2 separate regions of the Homo sapiens genome follow, and region 2 is reported to be linked to region 1. The links are microRNA targets in miRTarBase. Many come from high-throughput screens and were not tested one by one. Region 1 holds a microRNA gene; the other region holds the end of a gene's coding sequence.

Evidence for each region. The annotated mature microRNA hsa-miR-3661 reads UGACCUGGGACUCGGACAGCUG and lies in region 1 at 2,009-2,030, shown strand. An mRNA with a match to its seed (bases 2 to 7 or 8) in the 3' UTR can be bound and repressed. Matches are read on the target gene's strand: a 7mer-m8 pairs with bases 2 to 8, a 7mer-A1 pairs with bases 2 to 7 and ends in A, and an 8mer does both.
Region 2: miRTarBase lists WDR45B as a target of hsa-miR-3661. Seed matches in the 3' UTR shown: 7mer-m8 at 3,988-3,994.

What each region holds. Positions count from the first base shown.
Region 1 is chr5:134,223,769-134,229,141 of GRCh38, forward strand. MIR3661 (microRNA 3661) reads left to right here and starts at 1,989; the gene lies at 1,989-2,084. It overlaps PPP2CA (protein phosphatase 2 catalytic subunit alpha), which reads right to left and starts at 2,305. Exons shown (of 7, transcript NM_002715.4): 1 at 1,992-2,305. The coding sequence starts at 2,093. It overlaps PPP2CA-DT (PPP2CA divergent transcript), which reads left to right and starts at 2,642. Exons shown (of 1, transcript NR_186539.1): 1 at 2,642-5,182. RefSeq lists enhancers at 1,595-1,704, 2,044-2,563, 2,564-3,085, 3,085-3,244, 3,086-3,605.
Region 2 is chr17:82,610,982-82,616,281 of GRCh38, forward strand. WDR45B (WD repeat domain 45B) reads right to left here. Exons shown (of 10, transcript NM_019613.4): 10 at 3,581-5,044. The coding sequence ends at 4,938. Among named protein-coding and RNA genes, the nearest start is that of FOXK2-AS1, 25 kb to the left of the region's middle.

The sequences.
Region 1 (5,373 bases):
GCTTTTCTTTCAAACTAGATTCATAGCTCCTCGACAATAAGCATACTTATTCTTCATTGCTTTTCATTTCCCTCAAAAGAGTATGCAATCTTAGATATTCAATAGATGTTCAATATTAAACACACTACTAATTTAAAACGGAATTGACTGTATAATCTCAGAACACATTTTAGTTTATAGACAGGAAAACAAGGACAAGTGAAGTGGCTGTCCCAAAGTCTGTCACAATTACTCAAGTAAGAGCAGAAGGACTCATGTCCAAATCTAACTCGCAGTCCAGTCTTCCAGTTACGTCATTACCTCCCTCCTTTCCACGTTTTCTTCAAAAGACTAGTCAACTGGCCAACTACTGACTTAAAAGTCTTTCATATAATGCACTGAATTCCAAAAATCGGTAAGATCATCATGTACAGTACCTAGAAATTAAGACCTGGCAATATACATTCATTTTTAAAGGCCAATTTTAAACCTTTAAAATAAATACCAACCTCATTTGACGTGAGAGGGTAAAGAAACAGGAGATTCAATACATCGCTACCATTAAAAGGCATCTCCAACAGATGATGTGCCACCTCATCCACTAGTAGTAGTTTTGTTCAGGCTTGGGAGAAACAAATCTAAATCTGACTTACTTAAATTCCAATTGTTCACAACATGGTTTCTAAAAAAGCCTGTCTTGGAAACATATACGTCAAACTCATGAACCTAATTTTCACATCAAACCAGAAACAAATCAGGATAATAGTTCTCCATTAATTCTTTTCACGGATACAAAATGCTAATATGATACTCCACTATTCTGTACTAAAGTGACGTGCTGCAAAGTTAATTTTGAAAAGGGAAGTTAAAATGTTCACAGCAGAGATCAGCATTTTGTGTACTTTAGAAAACTGAGTTACAAGAATTTAAAAATACAACACAAAGCTAATAGCTAAATTAACTACCTGTTTCCCCAACCCCCAGGGGAAAACAAAAGGGAATTAGCTAATATAAAGTTTAGTGTTACTAAGTGGACTACAACATTCTATTTTCAGTGTATGTGAGACATTATTTAAACACTAAGCACAATGTCTGGAATACAATCTCAGTCGACAGTTATTATCACTACTACTACTTGCAGCCACAAAATACTATCAAGTAATTTTTGCAACAAAGATACAAAATTTACCGCTCTTCCATTTTATGTTGTTCATTTTAAAAATAAACGGCAAAATGCCAAGTGTGTTAAGCTTAGAGAAGGCTTTGAGTCAGCATATAAATCATATTCAACCGACACTTGATTTCCAATCCAAAAGCTCCTTATGTAGTATGACTCACCAAATTCCCGATTTCTTCCAACTATGAAAAATAAGTTACACTCCTCCCTTATAGCTACCACCATGACCTTCGTAAAAATTAGGTTAAGAGAATAATTTAAAAATTCTTAAAGACACCCCTTACCTTGATTTCTGGAGAAGATCGCTTGGTGAGTTTAATACAAACCACCAAGGGGTACTAAAGCTGTGTGACCTTTAGGTATGTTCTGGGATACGGCCTAACAAGACTGCCTTTGGGGGATCCTCTGGGCAGCTCTGGACCTAACTAGGCCTGGGTACCAGCGGCAAGACTCTTACTCAGCCCACCGGAGAGGCCCAGGCTCCATTCCCAAGCCGCAGAATCCAAGCCAGCTCACCCTCAAAACCGTCCCTGACGATGACCCACAGGGTCTCCGCTCCCCCTGCCACCTCGTCTGGCGCCAAGGCCGGCTGACTCAAAAGCCCAGGAGTCGAGTGAACGGCGCCATTTTAGGCGGCGGCGGCAACCAATCCCTGCGCGGGAGGCAGGGGGCGCCGGGTCGTTAGGAAGCCGCCGCCGGCCAGGATGGGCGCCGGTCTCGGAGACTCGGGGGGCCCGGACCGGCGGCCTCCGCCATGTTGCACCCTCCTCACGGCCGCCTTTTCCTCGGCGGGCTCGGCCCCGCGGCGGCTGTCCGCAGCCGTACTACAGCTCACCTTCTCGCAGAGGCTCTTGACCTGGGACTCGGACAGCTGCTTGCACTCGTTCAGCTGCTCGATCCACTGGTCCAGCTCCTTGGTGAACACCTTCTCGTCCATGATGCCACCCGCCCCAGCCGGCTGCCGCTCCGCGCTGCTCCCGCGCCGCCGCCCGCACACGGGCCTACACGCACACGCCGCCGCCGGTTCCTCGTGTACTTCTGGCGGCTGTTGAGGCTGGCGCTGGCCCGCTGGCTCTCACCGCAGTACTCGGCCGTCGGCCGCTGCGCCTCCTCCTCCGCTCGCTGAGGCTCCAGAGCTCGGCTCTCTGTAATGGCGGCCGCCGGGCGTGGTGACGTCACGCCCGGCGTCAGGAGGCGGCGGGGAGCGGAGGGGAAAAGGGCCGGGGAGCAAGCTGCGCAACTGCAGAGCCCTCCCCGGGCGGCCGCACGACCGGAGTTGGGGCGCAAACTGGGGGTCAAAGCGCAGGCGCGACGTAGCCGGCTGGTAACTGAAGCGCCTTGACTTTTTGGGCGTGGCTCCCGGAGGGCGGGGTGGTGGGGGAAGGGAAGGATGGAGCTGGAGCATGCGCAGTGCGCACAGCGGCGAACCGGACTAATCCCTGAGCACTATTCCAGGAGAGGCGAGGGCTTGGGCCGCGCGCAGGCGCAGACCGGATGGAAGCCGGGGCCACTGGCAGCCTGTAACTGGTTCCCCTGGGAAGGCCGCTCTGGTGATGAACTCAGCTCCTCACCTGGGGCCTGGCAGTCCGATCACGGAAACGAGAATTGCGACCCCGTGGCTCATCTGGGGTGCTGCGGCTCTGTAATCGTGTGGGTTTCCGTCATCTTTGGGGGCAGGAACGGGCAGCGAGTGGCCGCTTGGATTAACCACCCCCACCTCTGGGCGCGGCTGGCACCTTGTAATTAGGTCACTCGTAGGTGGAGGAGCGTGTACCTACCGGGGGAGTGCTGCGCAGTGCACCTGACTTCCGCGGCACACACCCGTCCCCGGACCTAGGTGTCTCGTCGGGCGCGATGGCGGGGGCGAGGCTTGGGCTTTTCTTTGGGCCTCGGACCGCGGCTCGCTTCCACGCGCCCCGCTCCTCGCCGGTGGTTGCTTTCCTCCAAGTTTAATTCTCTCTGGGAATGAGAGACCCTCAACCCCTGCGCGCCCTGGCCTACTTTCAAGAGGGGAAGCCCAGAGAAGATGGATGCACCTGTCCTGACCGCGTCTCGGTGGCGTGAGAAGCAGCTGTGATACGTGCTTAAAAGAGAGAGCTCGTATACCCTAGGATTGGACCTCTGTCTGGTTATGAATCGCTTTGGAGTTTGCGAAACGTTTTCACATTCCATTGTCCCTGCTTTTACATAAATATCTGGTTCCATAGAGCGCCAGCTATATGCCAGATCCGGAGGGGTCATCCAGACGGACCAGGGACCATGCCCTGGAGCTTGTATTCTCCCAACAGTACTGGCTGAAGATGGTTTGGGATAGGCAGAAGAGAGATCATAATGCCCCCAGGATTTGAAAGATATAGAAGCTTTCCAAAGAACATTTAACCATAAAGGGCAAGGCAAGAGCTGAACCTGATCGCCTGTCTTCCAGGAACCCCACCCTCAGTATCAGGCAACCCTTCCACACCCAAGTGCTCAGCGATGCTTGGGAGGAGACTGCTCACTCTGCGGCTCTGAGGGCATCATCCCCACCAACAGGCTGAAGAAGGCACTGGAGGCCCCATCAGCCAATAGCAGGACTGAAAATCCTCCTTTATCCAAGACAACGTGTTTGGCAAGGCCGACTGGCTTGGCCTCCCTAGGCTGGAAATTGCAATTCTGCTTTCCCTTCACACCTCCCATTAGTGTGCACAAAAGAAAGTACCTTAAATCTACTCTTCTAGAAGTCTTATCACATACTTAATTTACCAGACTGGGAAAAAGACCCTTTAGCCCAAATTCTGTCCCTGTTTTGCAGTTAACATCCCCAAACAATAGAAGGGTAAGAGTTAAGACCAAGTGGAATGAATAAGGAAAAAATCATCACTTAGTGCCCGTGATTATAAAGCCATACCCAGTGTGCTGTCTAATCTTATTCTTTACCGTTGCCATGAACCTGTGTGAGAACTGTCTGATGGGGCAAGAAGCAGACAGGCACTCAGAAAAGAGAAGGGACTTGCCTAAGATAGTGGTCAGGATTTAAAACTGCACACTCCCAAGTACAAAGTCTCAGCCACAGTCATGCAGTTGACCTTCCAAGGTCTGACATATGGAACAGAATCAACATTATTTCTCTTTGCCTAGATTCTCTCTCTTTTTTTTTTTTTTTTTTTTTTTTTTTTGAGCCAGAGTCTCACTCTGTTGCACAGGCTGGAGTGCAGTGGTGCAATCTCGGTTCACTGCAAACTCTGCCTCCCAGGTTCAAGCAAATCTCCTGCCTCAGCCTCCCAAGTAGCTGGGATTACAGGCACCCGCCACCATGCCCGGGTAATTTTTATATTTTTAGTAGAGACGGATTTCGCCACGTTGGCCAGGCTGGTCTCAAACTCCTGACCTCAGGTGATCCGCCTGCTTCAGCCTCCCAAAGTGCTGGGATTACAGGTGTGAGCCACCGCACCCAGCCTGCCTAGATTCTCTTACCTGGAAAGGGTGTGGTGATGTTAGTTTGATAGATGATGAAGTATTGAACACCCACTGTGTGCTAAAATTATGAGTTTTTCCAAAGTACTGTGAGCCCCTTGTTGGTAGCATTAATGTAGGTGTTATTTATTTTCTCTTGATGCAGATTACTTGGCTCACCACCATCACAAAATGGAGGGAAGATATAATAATTATATGTACTTAAAACATCCTGCCAAATAATTAAATGCCATGACTTAACTTCTTAAGGAATGAATTCTAGGAAGCTCTTAGCATCAGACAGTGAAGTAAAGCATACATGATCATAAACAATACAGAAGTAAATTAATCAGGATATATTTTTCTTTAGAAGAAATTCAGATTGTGTATTCTGTAGAACAAAATATCTAATGGACATGAAAATGAAAATTCATTTTGACTTATCTGGTCTTGACTAATTTGACCTCACTGACTCAATTCTAGAGCTGAAGAATATTTGGAACAAAAAATTTAAAGCAAACCAAAAAGAATTGTCTTTTTAATTTATTGGGAAACACCAGAGAGTAAATAAAGCAAATATGCTTTGAGAAAGAATCTTTGCTCTGATGGCAAATTCAATATACAGCAAGTCTGAGTGTTGCCCATGATGTTTAAACATAGCTATAAATAAAAATCATCTGATGATGGGGGCGGGGTAGGAGGAGGATAACCTTGAGCAAATAGCTTTATAATAGGCACCCTACCCAAGATACAAAAATTGACATTAAACATGGAGTAGGAATGAG
Region 2 (5,300 bases), not on the chromosome of region 1:
CAGCCTGGGAGACAAAGCGAAACTCCGTTTCAAAAACAAACAAACAAAACATAAAGAAATTAGCCAGGCATGGTGGTGCATGCCTATGGTCCTAGCTATTTGGGAAACTGGAGCAGAAGGATCACTTGAGCCCAGGAGGGCGAGGCTGCAGTGAGCCTTGATTGCACCCCGGCACTCCAGCCTGGGTGACAGAGCCAAAAAAAAAAAGAAAAAAAGAAGCACGGCTGGGCACGGTGGCTCACACCTGTAATCCCAATACTTTGGGAGGCTGAGGTGGGAGGACTGCTTCAGGCCAGGTGTTCAAGACCAGCCTGGAGAACACAGACACCGTCTCTACAAAACAATAACAAAAATTAGCCGGGCGTGGTGGTGCACGCCTGTAGTCCCGGCTACTCAGGAGGCTGAGGTGGGAGGATCACGTGAATCCAGGAGACAGAGGTTGCAGTGAGCTGAGATTGCATCACCACACTCCAGCCTGGAGTGAGACCCTGTCTCAAAAAAAAAAAGGATAGGCAGCTGTCGTATATGCTGATAATGGTAAAAATAATGTGAGACATAAGTTCAAGTCCCTTGTGCAAATACTGAAACTGAGGTAGAAAAATGCTGATTTTCTGGAGTTACACTCTGCTATCAAGGTCAGGAGGACACCCTTTTCCACAGTATCTGGCCAGATCCTTGCCTGTTTTTTCCACATACCCGAGAGAGATTAGGAGATAATTAGCCCTCAGCTCGCATGCCCCAGAAGCGTCGTCAGACTCACCATCTGAAACATCTTACACAGATGACAGGCTTCTGGCTGGCAGCCAGCATGGACAACTCAAGATGGGGCCGCAGGTGTCTGTGGGAGGCTCAGAGCAAATGTCGGGGGATTCACGGCCTCTACAGACGGTGGCGTCTCTCTTGAACAGAGCTACAAAAGAAATGACATTTCACTAGATGCCACCTCAGTCTCAAGTCTACATTTGCTTTTGTTAAAACCCATTGTATGTCTACATTTTGGTGGATGTTGCGTAAGACAAATCATTTTAAAATTAATGCCAAAACCACAAAATCACTAACCTGATACGAAATTCCAGAATGCGGCAAGAATATTACAAGCTAAATTAGAAATAAGAATCCTCTATACATATACATCCAAAAAAAAAAAAAATCCCCAAGTATTAGTAGAATTCTTTTTTTTTTTTCCTGAGATAGAGTCTCTGTCACCCAGGCAGGCGTGCAGTGCTGCGATCTCGGCTCACTGCAGCCTCCATCTGCCCGGTTCAACTGATTCTCCTGCCTCACGCTCCCAAGTAGCTGGGACTACAGGCACGCGCCACCACGCCTGGTTAATTTTTGTATTTTTAGTAGAGACAGGGTTTCACCATGTTGGCCAGGCTGGTCTCGAGCTCCTGACCTCAGGTGATCCACCCACCTCAGGCTCCCAAAGTGCTGGGATTACAGGCGTGAGCCACCGCGCCTGGCGAATTCAGCAGTATTTAAGGATAACACACTGTGACCAAGTGGGCTTTCCCACAGGACAGCAAGGTTGGCTCAACATTCAAAAATCAACGTGATGCTCCACGTTCACGGCGTAAAAGATAGGTGTGATCATCACAACAGATGCAGAAAAGTCACTTAACAAAATTCAACAGCCATTCCTAGCGGCAGGCAGGGTCACCCCCAAGTCCCCACTCAATAAAGGAAAATCAGGAGGCATCCTCCAAGAAGACCCAGATGCTGGAATCGGCAGACAAGGACTTGAAAGCGCACAGAGCGCGTACAAATGGGCAGACACAAGTCATCAGCCACGAATTAGAAACCAACTTTAGAACTGACAAATGTATCTGAAATAAAAAAGGCGGCCAGGCGTGGTGGCTGTAATCCGAGCACTTTGGGAGGCCAAGGTGGGAAGATCGCTTGAGCCCAGGAGGTGGAGGAGAAACCCCGTCTCTACCAAAACAATTTTTTAAATAAAAATAGATGTTACGTTCAGGTGTGGGGTTGTCTGAGAGTGATCTTCTCTGGAGGTAGAAACACGGGGCAATTTTGCTTACAAATTTATATTTTTCTATTATTTTATAAGGAACTTTTTTTTCATTGTATTCTCTGATCCATCTGGAAGAGAAAAATTTTGGTACAAGTTTCAACAATGTCATCAACCAAATGCCTCTGACACAACAGAAGAGAGATGAGGACTAAGTCACGTGAAAGAGCTCTGGCATTCAGGGGCTTGGTTTGGTTGCAGAAAGAAAACACAAATATAAAACTCTTTGATCACAGAAGGCTGCAGATGGCCAGCGCCCCCGACTACAGTGGTGGGAGCGGGAGGTGGCCAGGGGTTCACACAGGCATCAACGCCAAACACAGGGTGGGTATGGGTCAGGGCTGCGTTCCACAGGGCACAAGCCGCCTGTCCCCGCAAGACATCCCAGGGCCACAGGGGAGGGAGGACAGACCAGAAACGCAGCCGGAGTCATCCATGCCCACGCACCTGTACGATCAGACAGGAAAGCTGCTGAGTAGGCACCGTCTGAGGCAGTCACTCTGGAGTCCCTTCGCACCCACGTCCGGGGCACAGGAGGTTCGTGGGGGAGGCAGCAGCCCGGCCTTGTTTCCCATACACTGCGCTTCCCATCAGTTCCACTTGAAAAGCAGCTGCGCTCCCGAGTCCGCCGGCCTAGGGACACCGTGTCCTTGCCGCTCTACAGTGATTTTTAAAAAGCACATGCCTGGGGAGGGCCGGTGCCGCCAGGGCCTCACATGAGGCACGTCCGTGCAGGCCCTCGCCACGTTCCTGGTGAACGGGCCTGTGACACAGCCCCGCCGTCCGCATCAGTTCTGAGGCTGTTCACGTGCACTGCGAGAAAACCCACCCTTCTTGCATGCATTTCCCCCAGATTCATGTTTATCAACTGGTAATTACGCTCCTACTCCCCCACCCAGAGTCAGATCTCAAGTGTTAGACAAGCCAGGGTGACGCCGGCTCACTTGAAGCTGCCACTTCAACATGCAGGGACATTGCTGCTGCCAGCCACCCTCCACCTCCACAGGCCAGCAGGAGCCTCAGACCTCCCAGAGCCACACAGGCCTCCTACAGATGCATTTCCTCCCTCCCTCCTCCAGAGGTGCCCTTGGGGCACAGGGAGAGAGGAGGGCAGGCCGCCCCGTCCCGACACAGGGAGAGAGGAGGGCAGGCCGTCCCATCCCCGACACAGGGAGAGAGGAGGGCAGGCCGCCCCGTCCCGCCACAGGGAGTGAGGAGGGCAGGCCGCCCCGTCCCGCCACAGGGAGTGAGGAGGGCAGGCCGCCCCGTCCCGCCACAGGGAGTGAGGAGGGCAGGCCGCCCCGTCCCGACACAGGGAGTGAGGAGGGCAGGCTGTCCTGTCCCGACACAGGGAATGAGGAGGGCAGGCTGTCCTGTCCCGACACAGGGAGTGAAGCTCCAGGCTCCGCACCCAGTGACCCTGGCTTCCACCTTGTCCTGTCACAGGCCGGCGCCTCTTCAGGCCCACAGGCTGTTCTGAAGCCTACACTCCAACCAGATTCTCACAGCAAGGGGAAGAGTGTTTGGCTTCATAACACACAATTCTACTTCCCATTACAGGTCCAGACTACAACAAAATTAGTCACTTTTATTTAAAAGAAACATTACAAATAAGTGTGCAAAATTAAACATCATGATTAAATACACATGAAAGGAACATGCATACTTTACAGCAACATCCACAGAGAATTAGCTGATTACATGACAGTGACAGTAAAGAACTAAAGAAACCGGCAAAACCGAGAACTCGCTGCTATGCAGGTTTTACATGTTTGCAATCTGAAATCAAAACCATAAAATAGAGTTTAACGGGAATTTAAGAAAATTAAATATATATCCCAAGTAGCTGACAATGTAGAGCCCATAACCTAGTTACCAAATGTTAAAAAAAGTTATGTGCCTCTCCTTCCCAAAATGTTAGTGTGTAGCTATTCTTACAAATGAGGGGAGGGGAGACGGTGGACCTGGGGGCTCGGAGGCCAGACCAGGGCATTTCCCTCCACACCAGCGGGAACTGCATGGACCCTCCCAGACCCTGCTCTGGCAGACGACCCCGAAGTTAAAGGATGTTTTCCCCATAACGAATGTTCAAAGTTCGTGCATCACTCTGCTGTTCCCTACACATAACCGGGAAACAGGTTTAATCCAAAATGTAACCAGGAGACCCCCCGTCCCCGCCCCGCACACGCCTGAGGTGTGACGGCTCGGCTTCTAGAGTGGCCTGGTGTCTGCCTCATTCTAATGGCCCCAACGGAGACGGGGACGCCACGCACGGGCACAGGTGACGTCACGGGCACAGATGACCACGTTGCGGGTACGGAGAAGACCACAGGCTGGGCTCACACGAGGGGAAACATTCACACTGTGTTCTCTCTACAGGGTCAGGTCATTTTTCTTCATGTTCGGGCGGGAAAAGGAATTCCTTTCTCCTTTTCTAAGGCAAGCTGCTGGTGTTGTATTCAATCTGCTTATCATGTAAGAACTTACATCTGCACACTTGTTCACTCCCCCGCTGCAGACTCAGTAAGAACGACGGAATCTGCTGCAAAAACAAACCTGAACTCGTCCACCCTCTCAGCCCAGTCCCCAGGTCCGTATGGAGCCCCCGTCAGTGTGAGGATGCGGCGGAGCCACTGAAGCTAACGTCACAGCTGAACTCATGGGAACAGCCAGTGGCCGCCAGTCGAGCTGGTCACAGCCACTGAGTTACCTACGGTGCCTTGATGATGATTCTCTCTTTAATACTGGAAATGGGAGTCCTTAGGAAAGCAGACAACCACGTATGGCTTCGAGACCAAGGTCCCTGGGCAGCCCCTCCAGCCCGTGGCCCAGGAGGCCCCTGGGGCACTGGCACCAGCCCCGAGAGTCTGAAGGCGGCAGGTGGTGGGTGCTGTGGCGCCCCCAGCTGGAGTCACAGCTTGTCATCGGTCATCTCTAGAAACTGCGCGTAGACATCTCGGATGCACTCCCCCTTGGGGTTGAACAGGAATTTGTAGTAGCTGCCGTCTGCACAAATTGCTGGGATAGAAGGAGACCATTTTACCTGTGTGTTTCTTTCCCTCAAGTTAAAAGCAACGAGTCCCACTGAGCTGAACTGCAAAGGGCCTCTTGGAGCCAGGCAGCTGCTCTGAAAGCCCTGAAAGGCCCCAGGGTCCCCACTGAATGCGTTCGGTCGGCACCGTGGCCGGGAATCCTGACTGTCTTGGTGTGAGCATCTAATCACCCGGTGTTGGCTACAGGGTTAAGAAACATTCTTGGTCATCTATACAAACAT